4 separate regions of the Homo sapiens genome follow, and all the other regions are linked to region 3. The links come from fine-mapping of genetic effects on gene expression. A gene starts in region 3. Each other region holds a variant in brackets. All regions are shown on one strand. Distances are between the middles of the regions.

Evidence for each region. PIP is the estimated chance that this variant, and not a neighbour inherited with it, causes the effect.
Region 1: its variant is the best candidate, but not a certain one, in a credible set for the expression of DOCK10 in lung (TOPMed, PIP 0.63).
Region 2: its variant is the best candidate, but not a certain one, in a credible set for the expression of DOCK10 in whole blood (TOPMed, PIP 0.85).
Region 4: its variant is the best candidate, but not a certain one, in a credible set for the expression of DOCK10 in whole blood (INTERVAL, PIP 0.79).

Annotation. Positions count from the first base shown.
Region 1 is chr2:224,906,745-224,909,244 of GRCh38, forward strand. All of the region lies in intron 3 of DOCK10 (dedicator of cytokinesis 10), which reads right to left. Among named protein-coding and RNA genes, the nearest start is that of MIR4439, 100 kb to the right of the region's middle. The variant G/A (reference allele first, on the strand shown) is at 1,336.
Region 2 is chr2:224,891,640-224,894,139 of GRCh38, forward strand. All of the region lies in intron 4 of DOCK10 (dedicator of cytokinesis 10), which reads right to left. Among named protein-coding and RNA genes, the nearest start is that of MIR4439, 120 kb to the right of the region's middle. RefSeq lists an enhancer at 971-1,597. The variant C/T (reference allele first, on the strand shown) is at 1,272.
Region 3 is chr2:225,041,375-225,044,103 of GRCh38, forward strand. It overlaps DOCK10 (dedicator of cytokinesis 10), which reads right to left and starts at 1,094. Exons shown (of 56, transcript NM_014689.3): 1 at 878-1,094. The coding sequence starts at 1,000. RefSeq lists an enhancer at 1-140 and silencers at 691-930, 1,121-1,490.
Region 4 is chr2:224,938,797-224,941,296 of GRCh38, forward strand. The region is part of intron 1 of DOCK10 (dedicator of cytokinesis 10); the gene reads right to left. It overlaps LOC124906121 (a long non-coding RNA gene), which reads left to right. Exons shown (of 3, transcript XR_007088106.1): 3 at 2,419-2,488. Among named protein-coding and RNA genes, the nearest start is that of MIR4439, 70 kb to the right of the region's middle. The variant G/A (reference allele first, on the strand shown) is at 1,469.

The DNA.
Region 1 (2,500 bases), 130 kb before region 3:
CTGGGATTACAGGCGTCAGTCACCGCACCCGGCCTTGTTTATCTTAAAGTAGTATACTCCAGGGGGTACTTGTCAGAGTGTGTCGTAGAAATCTAATCAGAGGTCTGTAACTTCTTGCCTGATGGTATGCACCTTGAGGGCAGGGACTGTGTTTAGCCAGTGGTTAAGCCCATGTTGGATAATGAACCTCCTCTAATCTTTCATCCAATGGTTGATTCTCTTTATCACATAATTTCAACACAATGTGATCTGTAGTAACAGTAAATCAGTGGGACAAGAAATTTCTATGTAAATTTCACTCTTTGTAAAGATAATTAGCTCCACCTAACTGAATTGCAATTAGCAGAGTCTTATATACCTCGTTTATGCCACCGGATTCACAGTTGCCCCTAGGACAAGAGAAAGGCTAATCTGATAATTAGGTAGGGGAATGAAGGGAGAAATTTAAGGGCTAAAAGAGTATTACACTGACATTTATGATCATTGTTAATTACTTCAAACTCTGAGAGTAACATTATTTATACTTATAATTTGCTGTATGAGGGTAAGTACATAGAACTACCATCACTGGGGCTTGTGCCGAATTGTGTCTTAGAATTGCATGACCTCCCTGAACACAGGTAGACATTTTCGATGCTAACAGTAAGAATTAAGAATAGAGGGCCAGGCGCGGTGGCTCACGCCTGTAATCTCAGCACTTTGGGAGGCTGAGGCGGGCAGATCACGAGGTCAGGAGATCAAGACCATCCTGGCTAACATGGTGAAACCCTGTCTCTACTAAAAATACAAAAAAATTAGCCGGGTGTGGTGGCGGGCCCCTGTAGTCCCAGCTACTCAGGAGGCTGAGGCAGGAGAATGGTGTGAACCAGGGAGGCGGAGCTTGCAGAGAGCTGAGATTGCGCCACTGCACTCCAACCTGGGCGACAGAGCGAGACTCCACCTCAAAAAAAAAAAAAAAAAGAATAGAGGTTTGGCCATGAAAAGAAAACAACTAATTTATCTGATCTCCTGGAGGGTTTAATATTTTCTTTTTCTGCATTAGAATCAGCCTGAATGAAATGCACATGCCGGTTCACCCAATTGTTGATTTCTGTTTTACTTGAACTACATTGTGCCTCTAGTTTCTGGTGATCTCCTTGGATCACATTTACATTAGCATTTCTCAAAGGTGTTTCTTAAAGATACTTGGAGAAAAATGGACAGAATTTCTACATGGTCAAATACATTTTAGAAATGTTTCATTTCATATCCCCTTCTAAGACAGTCTTGATGGATATTAGCTAATTAAAGACTCTGAATGTGTGTGTGTGTGTGTGTATGTTTCTATGTGTGTGA[G/A]ACACTTAGGAACATCGTGCAGACCTAGCCTCTTGCCGAACGTTCTGTGCCTACATAAAGTTGGCTTCTGCCCTGATTTAAATGAGTTGTGTGTGTGTGTGTGTATGTGTGTGTGTGTGTGTGTATTTTTTATGGACAGCTAGAGATTTCAACAACATTTACTTCGCCTTAAATCATATTTGTATTTACCATTTAGTCTTGGGTCCTGTTTTCATTTTTGTTTTTTCCTTTCCAGAATTCATTTCTGGTTTGAACCCCTTGCTTAAAATCTGAACTTTTCCTTGCCCCGGTAGCCTAGTACTATTTGGATGAAGACAGTACATAATCATCATCGTTTGTGTGTGTGTGTGTGTGTGTGTGTGTGTGTGTGTGTACATGTGTAGATGTGGCTGTAGAGATAAGTATTTGCTTTTATTCTTTTTTATTTTTCTACGGACAGAGTCTCACTCTGTTGCCCAGGCTGAAGCTCAGTGGCATACGCATGGCTCAGTCATGCAGTCTCAAATTCCTGAGCTCAAGCCATCCTCCTGCATCGGCCTCCTGAGTATTTGGGACTGCAGGTGCACACCATCATGCCCAGCTAATTAAAAAGTTTTTTTTAGAGATAGAGTCTCACTATATGGCCCAAGCTGGTCTTGAACTCCTGAGATCAAGTGATCCTCTTGCCTTGGCTTCCCAAAGTGCTGGGATTACTGGTATAAGCCATTGCACCCAGCCTGCTTCTGTTCTTTCAATGTTATCATACCTCCTAAGTCCCCAAGAGTTTTATGCCATGATCAAAATGAGACTTGGATGAAGTCTCCTCACTTATCATTATTCTACTCCCGCAGCAGCATTGGTTTTCAGAAATCAGAGAGGGCTTTGTTGTCAGAGTAACTTGCTACCTTAGTACTTTGTCAGTATTTCTCTCAGCCATTCAGCTGAAGTGGTCCCTAGACCTTTGTTCCCTCTTGAGCCACTGTATTGTTCTCAATTCTTTGCTCCCTCATCTCCTTTTGTTAAGAGAGACTGAACCAAGAGCTTGGTTTTAATTAGTATGCTGAGCTTTCTTCCAACTTTATATGATCCCTTTGTGTATATTAAAATAAAAGCTTCGTTATAGAAGTTTTGCTTAGGAAGTTTGCATCCTATTTCTAGATCACTTTAATTGCCCCCCTCTCCTCCT
Region 2 (2,500 bases), 150 kb before region 3:
AAGTCAATAGCAAAACTCAGAAGATATGAGACAAAGAATACCAACGAAGTCAATAGCAAAACTCAGTCAACCCCAGTAGTCCCTAGCCACATCCATGCTGATCTTAATCTTCACTTTTAAAAATTATGCAGACCAGAGACTGTCAATTTAAGTCAGATCTGGGGCTAGGGTTGTAGTGAATGTAAGCGTGCCACTTCACTGGTGGTTTTTCTTAATTCTGAGTTTGCTTGATCAAATTCAAAGTGCATTATTGAGAACTGTCTTAATTCTTGGGGGCCATTCTCCTTTGCCATTCAACATTCCAGTTTCCAGATATTACCTGGCTCCCAGAAGAGCTGCAATAATGTCAACCACATATCAGAAAATAAGTTCCTGAACTGAGGAAGCTTGCATTCTAGGGGAGGAGAGAGTCAATCATGAATTAAGCAGAAATAAGATAATTTCTCTGAGTGAAAATGGTTGTTAAGAAAATCAAGGCTGGGTGTAGCAGCTCACGGCTGTAATCCCAGCACTTTGGGAGGCCGAGGCTGGTGGATCGCTTGAGGTCAGGAGTTAAAGACCAGCCTGGCCAACATAGTGAAACCCTGTCTCCACTAAAAACACAAAAAAATTAGCCAGGCATGGTGGCCTACACCTGTAATCCCACCTAATTGGGAGGCTAAGGCAGGAGGATCCTTTGAACCCGAGAGGTGGAGGTTGCGGTGAGCTGAGATTGTGTCACTGCACTCCAGCCTGGGGACGAAGTGAGACCCTGTCTCAAAAAAAAAAAAAAAAAAAAAAAAAGAAAGAAAGAAAAGAAAAGAAAAGAAAAAAATCGAAGAGGAGAAAGAGGAGAAGAGCGATGAGTGATCCTTGTGGAAATGGCAAAGGCCACGTGTAGAAAGACTCTTCAAGGATGGCCTCTCTCGAGAGGTAACATTTAAATTGAGGAGGAGAAGCAGCTGGTTGTGTGATGACCTAGGAGAAAATCCCCTGGCAGAGGGAGCTGCAAGAGTACAGGTTCTGAGGAGGGGCCAAGTGTGGAGCATCCAGGAAGGAAGGCTGTAGGGGCTGGAAACAGTGCAGGAGGGAGGGCTGCGGGAGGGAGGCCTGTCCAATGCCCTTGGGCAGGGAAGGCAGACAGTGCTTGGATCATTGCTGAGGCTTGAGGGCTACTGAAGATTCTTATTTCCCAATCCGGTTTTTAATAAGCCACAAGGCACAGCCTCCTGCCTTTAAAGAGCAATCTTCAAGCTCAGTCACATGTCTGTGGGGCTACTATGCAATGACTT[C/T]TCTCTTTTAAAGGTCATGAAAAGATCAGCACCTGTGGCTATTGACTTTAAAATTCTTCCCCCAGGACCATTGCGTGGTCTCTAAGAGCCTCGGGGATACCAAGATAAAGGGCTCATCCCAGACCTTACCCTTTGGTGTTTGCATCCGACATTGGTGATAACTATAGGCAGCCTCATTTCTCTTTTCTCTGACCAAATGACCTGGATTACCCAGTGTGGGATGCCTGAGTGCCCCATCAGTTATCAGCTGTAAGTTTTGGGGTAAATTCCCTCTCAGTTTCCGAGTTTCTGCTATAAAATGAGGATAACAGTTCCTATTCCATAGGGTTATGAGTATTAAATGAGATAATGCATGTATGACACCCAGCACATTCTGGCTCACTGTAGACACTCAAAAAAATGCTCTTTTATTAAAAAAAAAACAAAAACTGTTCTATTTCAGCCCAGCTAAGCTGGTCACACTTTATTTGATCTTTAGTCACAATTTATACTCTTATGAATTTTTCTTCCTTACATCTTCTTTCTATCAAATCGACCATGGTAAAAAATTTTAATATGTCACACATCTCTGTATTTTACCCAGTGGATTAATGAAATCAGTGGCATCATATATTTTTATGCTGCTTTTTTCTTCTGGGATCTCCAAGTTAGTGCTGATTTCTATTCCTAGTGTGTAAAGGCTTACATTTTCCATTCTAGCCTGAAGTCATCTATTTCTTCAGTATCTTCCTATGGACCCTCGCTTAAAAATAAAAAAAGTGAAAATCTTAAGAGTCAATAATACACATTTAAATTTAAAGAATAAATTTCACCTTTTTTTTTGCTTTTCTATAATTGCAAATTTTCATTTTGCAGTCTCAGCAACTCATAAAAAGAAATAAGCAATTTAAATTGGTAGCAGACATAGGAGAATTCTTCTAATCCAGGAGGTATGAAAATGATTTACTTCTATTAGCCTCGGAAGACCCAAGTAAATTGTCTGTTTCCATTACTGACCTAAATACATGTAGTCTTTAGAGGGGAATGCTTAGCTTTGTAAAATCATTTTAAAGAATAATTCTGCTGTTCAGTGCTCATCTTCATTGTTCTGGGGTATATCTGAAAGGGTTATATTTTTGAACTTCTGATTTTCAGTTTGAATACATAAAGTTTCTTACTTTGTGGCAGTCTGATTCTTCCCTTTCTTGGTATTAACTTCCACTTTCTTTAGTTAAAGTAAGGGAAATTCT
Region 3 (2,729 bases):
CGTTTCCACTAGAGTTGATTTGTCTCTTGCCACCTCTCCCCGGCAGTGTGGACCTACTGCAACGCAGGAACATCTGGGTTGGTATGGATAGGATCCTAGCATCAGATGCTGGCTGCTGCCCCAGGGACTTCCCGCGGAAATCACCCAGCACTTAGAAGCCGTTTCAATAAGGAAGTAACCAGTAAAGCATTGCTGGTGGGAGAACCCCGCGAAACATCTTAGAAAAATATCAGAAACCGCTGGAGACCTAATGACCCACGTCTCCTCCAGCCTGTGTTCCTCAGCCCTTTCTGGAGGAGTATTAAGTGGTTTGTGGGTTTTTACCCTGCGGTGGGAGGGCTGTTCCAAGTACATCTATTTCTGCGATAGTTAACGTCGGGGGGCCCCAGCTCTAACCAGGGCGAGGACCACGGACTGCATCCCTCTCTCTCAGCGCACTGGTCTGTTTACTGGAGGGTGAGAGGGACGCGCAGACCTCCGGACTCAGGGGTTCTGTTCTGTAGATCCCCCCACCCCACCCGGGGTCTCTGGCACTCGTATCACTTAGCACCAGTGTGACTGGCGGTGCATTCCGGCCCCCTCGCGCCCCATTAAAGCCCCTGCACATCCTCTCCCACGCTGCGCTTCTGCTACCCACGCAGCTGCTCCTCTGAGCGTCCCGCGTGCACAAACGCGCCCCCGGTCCTTACGCGTCGGTGGCGCTGCCTCGCTGAGGTGGCGCCGGGGGAGCCCGCAGAGGCGGCGGGGGAGGGAGTGCGGAGGAGAGGACCCGTGAGCTGCGGGGACCTGGGCCCGCCGAGCTTTTGGGGAAGCTGGGCTCCGTTCCCCCCGGGCGCCTGGGGCGCGCGGGAAGGCGCGGAGGACGCGCCGCACTCACCCGCTGCTGCTGCCGGCTGCTGACTGCCACCGCGGCGGCGGACGCGGCGCTGTGCCGGAGCTCGGCCGCCTGCCCAGGTCTCAACAGGCTCCGGGTGAACCTGCGGGTCCGCTCACCGGCCATCGCCGGTCACGCCAATCGCGCCGCGGGCCCGGGGCGCGCCTCCCGCCGGTCTTCCCCGCGCCAACCTTCTCTATCCACCCGCCGTTCAGGAAGCGGAACTCGGAGCCTTCCCCCCCCTCTTCCTCGCTCAACTCGCAAGAGGCGGGTTTTTCTCTCTTGCACCCCCACTCTTCCCACCCCCTTCCCTCCTCTGAAGCTTCTCGAAGACTTTCCAAACTCTGCGCTCCCCCGGGCGCGCGCGGCCAACTCGGCTGGCGGCCGGGCCCTGCAGCGGCGCATCTGGAGCGGGCGTCGCGGGACGCGTGTGGGGCGGCTCCTGCCCGCGCCGCCCACACGGGCTCAGCTGGCCGGCCGGGGCTGTCCACGCCGCCCGGGGGAACTGCAGGCTGCGGGGGAGGGCGGGGGGCGGCCGCCGAGGGGCTCCGGGCGGGGCCTGTCCAAGGCCGTCGCCTGTCCAAGGCCGTCAGCCTCATTTGGAGGTTGCTGGGAGAGTTGGAGCCCTGGATGCATTTGCCGTTTAGACTTCTATTTTCTGGGTCCGGCTAGTGGGTGGGGGCCAAGCTCGGTTCGCCCTTCCACCCTCGGGAAGGGGTCAGAGGCTTATTAAAGATCTGGTGGCTGGGATCCCAGCAGCATCGCCCAAGCCAGCGTTTGGAAGGCTCCCTTGCCAGAAGTCCATGTTCAGGGCCTTGGAATAAGCTTCCCCATTCATTCACTCCTTCAATGAGTATTTATTAAGCGCCTACTATATGCCAGCTCACACTGTTCTGGAAACTGAGGATACGGAGAGGAACTTAGCAACTACACTTTAAGGCTGTGTAGAGCTGATAGGTTTTTTCGGGGTAGGGGTGGGAGACAGCAAGTAACCAAGCGAACAAATAAACAAATACAGAGAAATCAAGGAGACAGTTTAAGCTACTAACACGAACTCAAAACCAATAAATCAGCGTTCTGGGGGTAAGAGACTTTGGGTGGCATTAGGATGAGTAGGCAAGAACCAACTGGCAGGGTTACTATGTAGGGTGGTCAGGTCGGGGGTGGATTTCACAGTTATGCTGTCTCTGCTCTTCTCTTGCCCATACCCATCTAGCCTGCACTTTGCCTCTAGATAGGTATCTGATGAAAGCCTTCTAAGAAGTCTCTTCCTGGGTCATACCCAGGGTGGTTCTGCAATTCAGTGTTGGACTGGATGGGGGGCAGAGAAGTTCTGGCCCCTGGATACTGGTCTGGAGAGATCTGGGACAGCCTTTCCAAGTGGTCTGGTTTTTTCTTAACAGCTTTTTATGGATCCATGACCCTGCCACTTTCTAAAGCCAATGATAGATAGTTATAACACAAGGTCACATTTGGGTATAAAGAATTCTTAAGCAATTGATAAATGCACTTTAGTCAGCTCTTTGTTAGCCAGGATTCAATTAGCCAGAGATGCTGTTTGGGGATCATTTCAGCACATTCTAGAAATCATAACAGGCGTAAGAGGGTAAGAGGCTCTGGCAGATTTGGGAAGTGCCATTTGAAACATCATCTAGTTCCAAGACAGCCTGCATAACAAATAACTGTACCTGTATTGTATGCTTTCATATTGGTACTCAGTGTGGGAGCAACACCACCTTTCAGGGTAAGCAAAGTAGGTGGTTGCCTCTGTGTTGGTACATGAAGATCTCTGTAGGAACAGCTCCCTCCAACCGTACCCTTTCCCAGGTGTACCCAGACTTGATGTCTCTGAATG
Region 4 (2,500 bases), 100 kb before region 3:
CCTGGGTCATGTAACAGATTTAATTTAGCCTTTCATCAGAGGGAGTTCCCCTGGAGAACCTCTCAAATGTTTGAGCTTCTGAAAACAAGGCTACTTTTTCCTACCAAAAAGGAAGTGATTAAGTAAAGAATAAGCCATCTTACACTAACCCTTTAACCTTCTGTCTGTCTTGAACCACACAGTTTCATGAGAATGGAAAAACACCAGCCAAATCAAAGTTAACAACTGTGCAGCTGGGCAAACTCAGATTAAGCTGAATTTGGAAATGGCTCCCTTGGTAACAAAGACGGACACAGATCTCACAAGAAATCAATCAGCAGTAACTCTTTGAATGTCTTAGTCCATTTCAGTGACATAAAGCAGGTGAAAGTCGGTAAAGCATAAAATGTTTTGCAGATATAAGGGATGACTGTATTGTTACATTCAACACACACATTATCGTTAGAAAAATCAGAATTTTCTATTTTGTTAACCCTTAATTTCTTTAGGGAAAGCAAGGACACAAAGGAGCTTTATAGGATTTGTGATGTAAGGTGCACTTTCAAACTAAATTTGGATCTTTGAAGTCTTATTTTCTTTTTAAAGAAATCTGACCATGTATATCTCTTATGAGCATGTTAAAATTCACACATTTTTGTATAGCAAATAAAAATAAAATTTAAAAGTGGCTGCTTCTCTGTATTTGTAAAGAAGTAGAAAATATCCAAGAAGATCTAAATCAAACTAAATTACATGTCTCATTTAGTTTTCTAGAAACACTTGAATGATAATAAATATCATTAAAAATACATCACAACCCAATTACAAGGCTGCCTGACACAAGGGAAATTAATGCCTTAGAGTAAACTGGAGAATTTTAGATTAATTTATATGAAGCCTGTGATGAGAGCTGTCACCAGCTTAACCTCAGATACTATCTTATTATTTTTAATAATCACAAAAACATTCACTCACAGGTCAAGTGTTGTACACGCACATACATGTCACACATACAAATGTAAATAGTTTTGTCAACAATAGGCATTTTATAATTTCAATATGTCTTCCCATAATGACAGACCATTCTTTTATTTCCTTTCCTACCTGTGGCTACTTGAAGTTGAATATGCATAGTGGATATTTGTTGTCTTTTGGCCTATGTGGCACTCATCCTACTTTCTTTTAGTACTAGCATTTTAATTTCCTTTTGGGGACTTACTTCTTTCCACATTCCCATAAGAAGCAGCCTTGGTGGATTTGACTAATGAAAGCGTCCTGATTTTCTGGCATCATGGGTGTGTGACCCCAGCAAGACCCATTCAACGCTTTCCTGCCGAACTCTGAATCTTGAGTGGAAGGATGCAAATGTTGATGAAAGGATTGGAATTGTTTCATTTCTGGGGCTACACTCCCACAAGACTTTCCATTAGTTTGAATCATCAAAACCACCCATTTCCCACTGTTCTGAGCTTCTCTAAGTCCATTCCTC[G/A]TTCTTTTCTGAGCCCATCTCTCCACTCTTCCTTCTGTCCCCTTCTCTGGACTGTGTTTGTTCATTGGAGTAGGTTTCCAATGCTTGCAACTATAGGAATCTAATGAGATATAATACAAGGAATAGTGCCTAGAATAAGGGACTACTATTTCCTCAATTTTTATGTTTATTTGGATTTGAATGGTCTTAAAGGAGGACCTCTTTTAGCTAATGACTTCTGTCTTTGAGGTGTGGGAATTTAGGTTTGGTAAACTCCTGAATTACCAGTGCAACCCAAGATTGTCTCATTCTGTGAAAAGTACACCAGGTATCAAGCATCCTGAAAATGGGGGCTTAAGAACCTTCCTGGTTCTCCAGGGAAATACATTCAGTGCAGCCCTGATCTCTAATTTTCCATTAAGCCTTACCCATTCAACCCATCACTCTCCTATGACAGCAGAATATCTGGAAGCCAAAAAATGAGTTTAAGACCCCGTTTACCTTCAGTGACGATAGTCACATACTATAATTTTGCTCTCTGTAGGAGGTGCCTGGTTGTGTGGGAAGTTCCGGCAAACCCCTGCAATATACAACAGATCAGACACACCTAAGCTAGCAATGATTTAGGTATGTCTCATCTGTTGTATATTATAGGGGTTTCACCTTTCTTCCTCCCCCCATTTTCATCTTACAAGTCACATTTACTGTATTTATTTATTATAGTAAAACTAATTCATATGTGTTTTCTTGTAGAAATAACAGTCACACCAAATAATTGATAATAATGGTAACAATATGCACTACCATTTTAAAATAAATTACCCTGTAAATGCCAATAATGGTTATTATTTTTCTACTACCACTATCATACATAATGGCAAAGACCATAATCAGTATTTAATATCTTCTCTCACTGAATACCAACATCAACCCTGGAAAAGAACATTACTGCTCTTTTTTTTTTTTTTTAGATGAGTAAGCTTGGATTTTGAAGACTTCAACAACTTGGCTGCAAGTTGATGGGAGAATTGACATTCTAACCCAGCTCAGTTT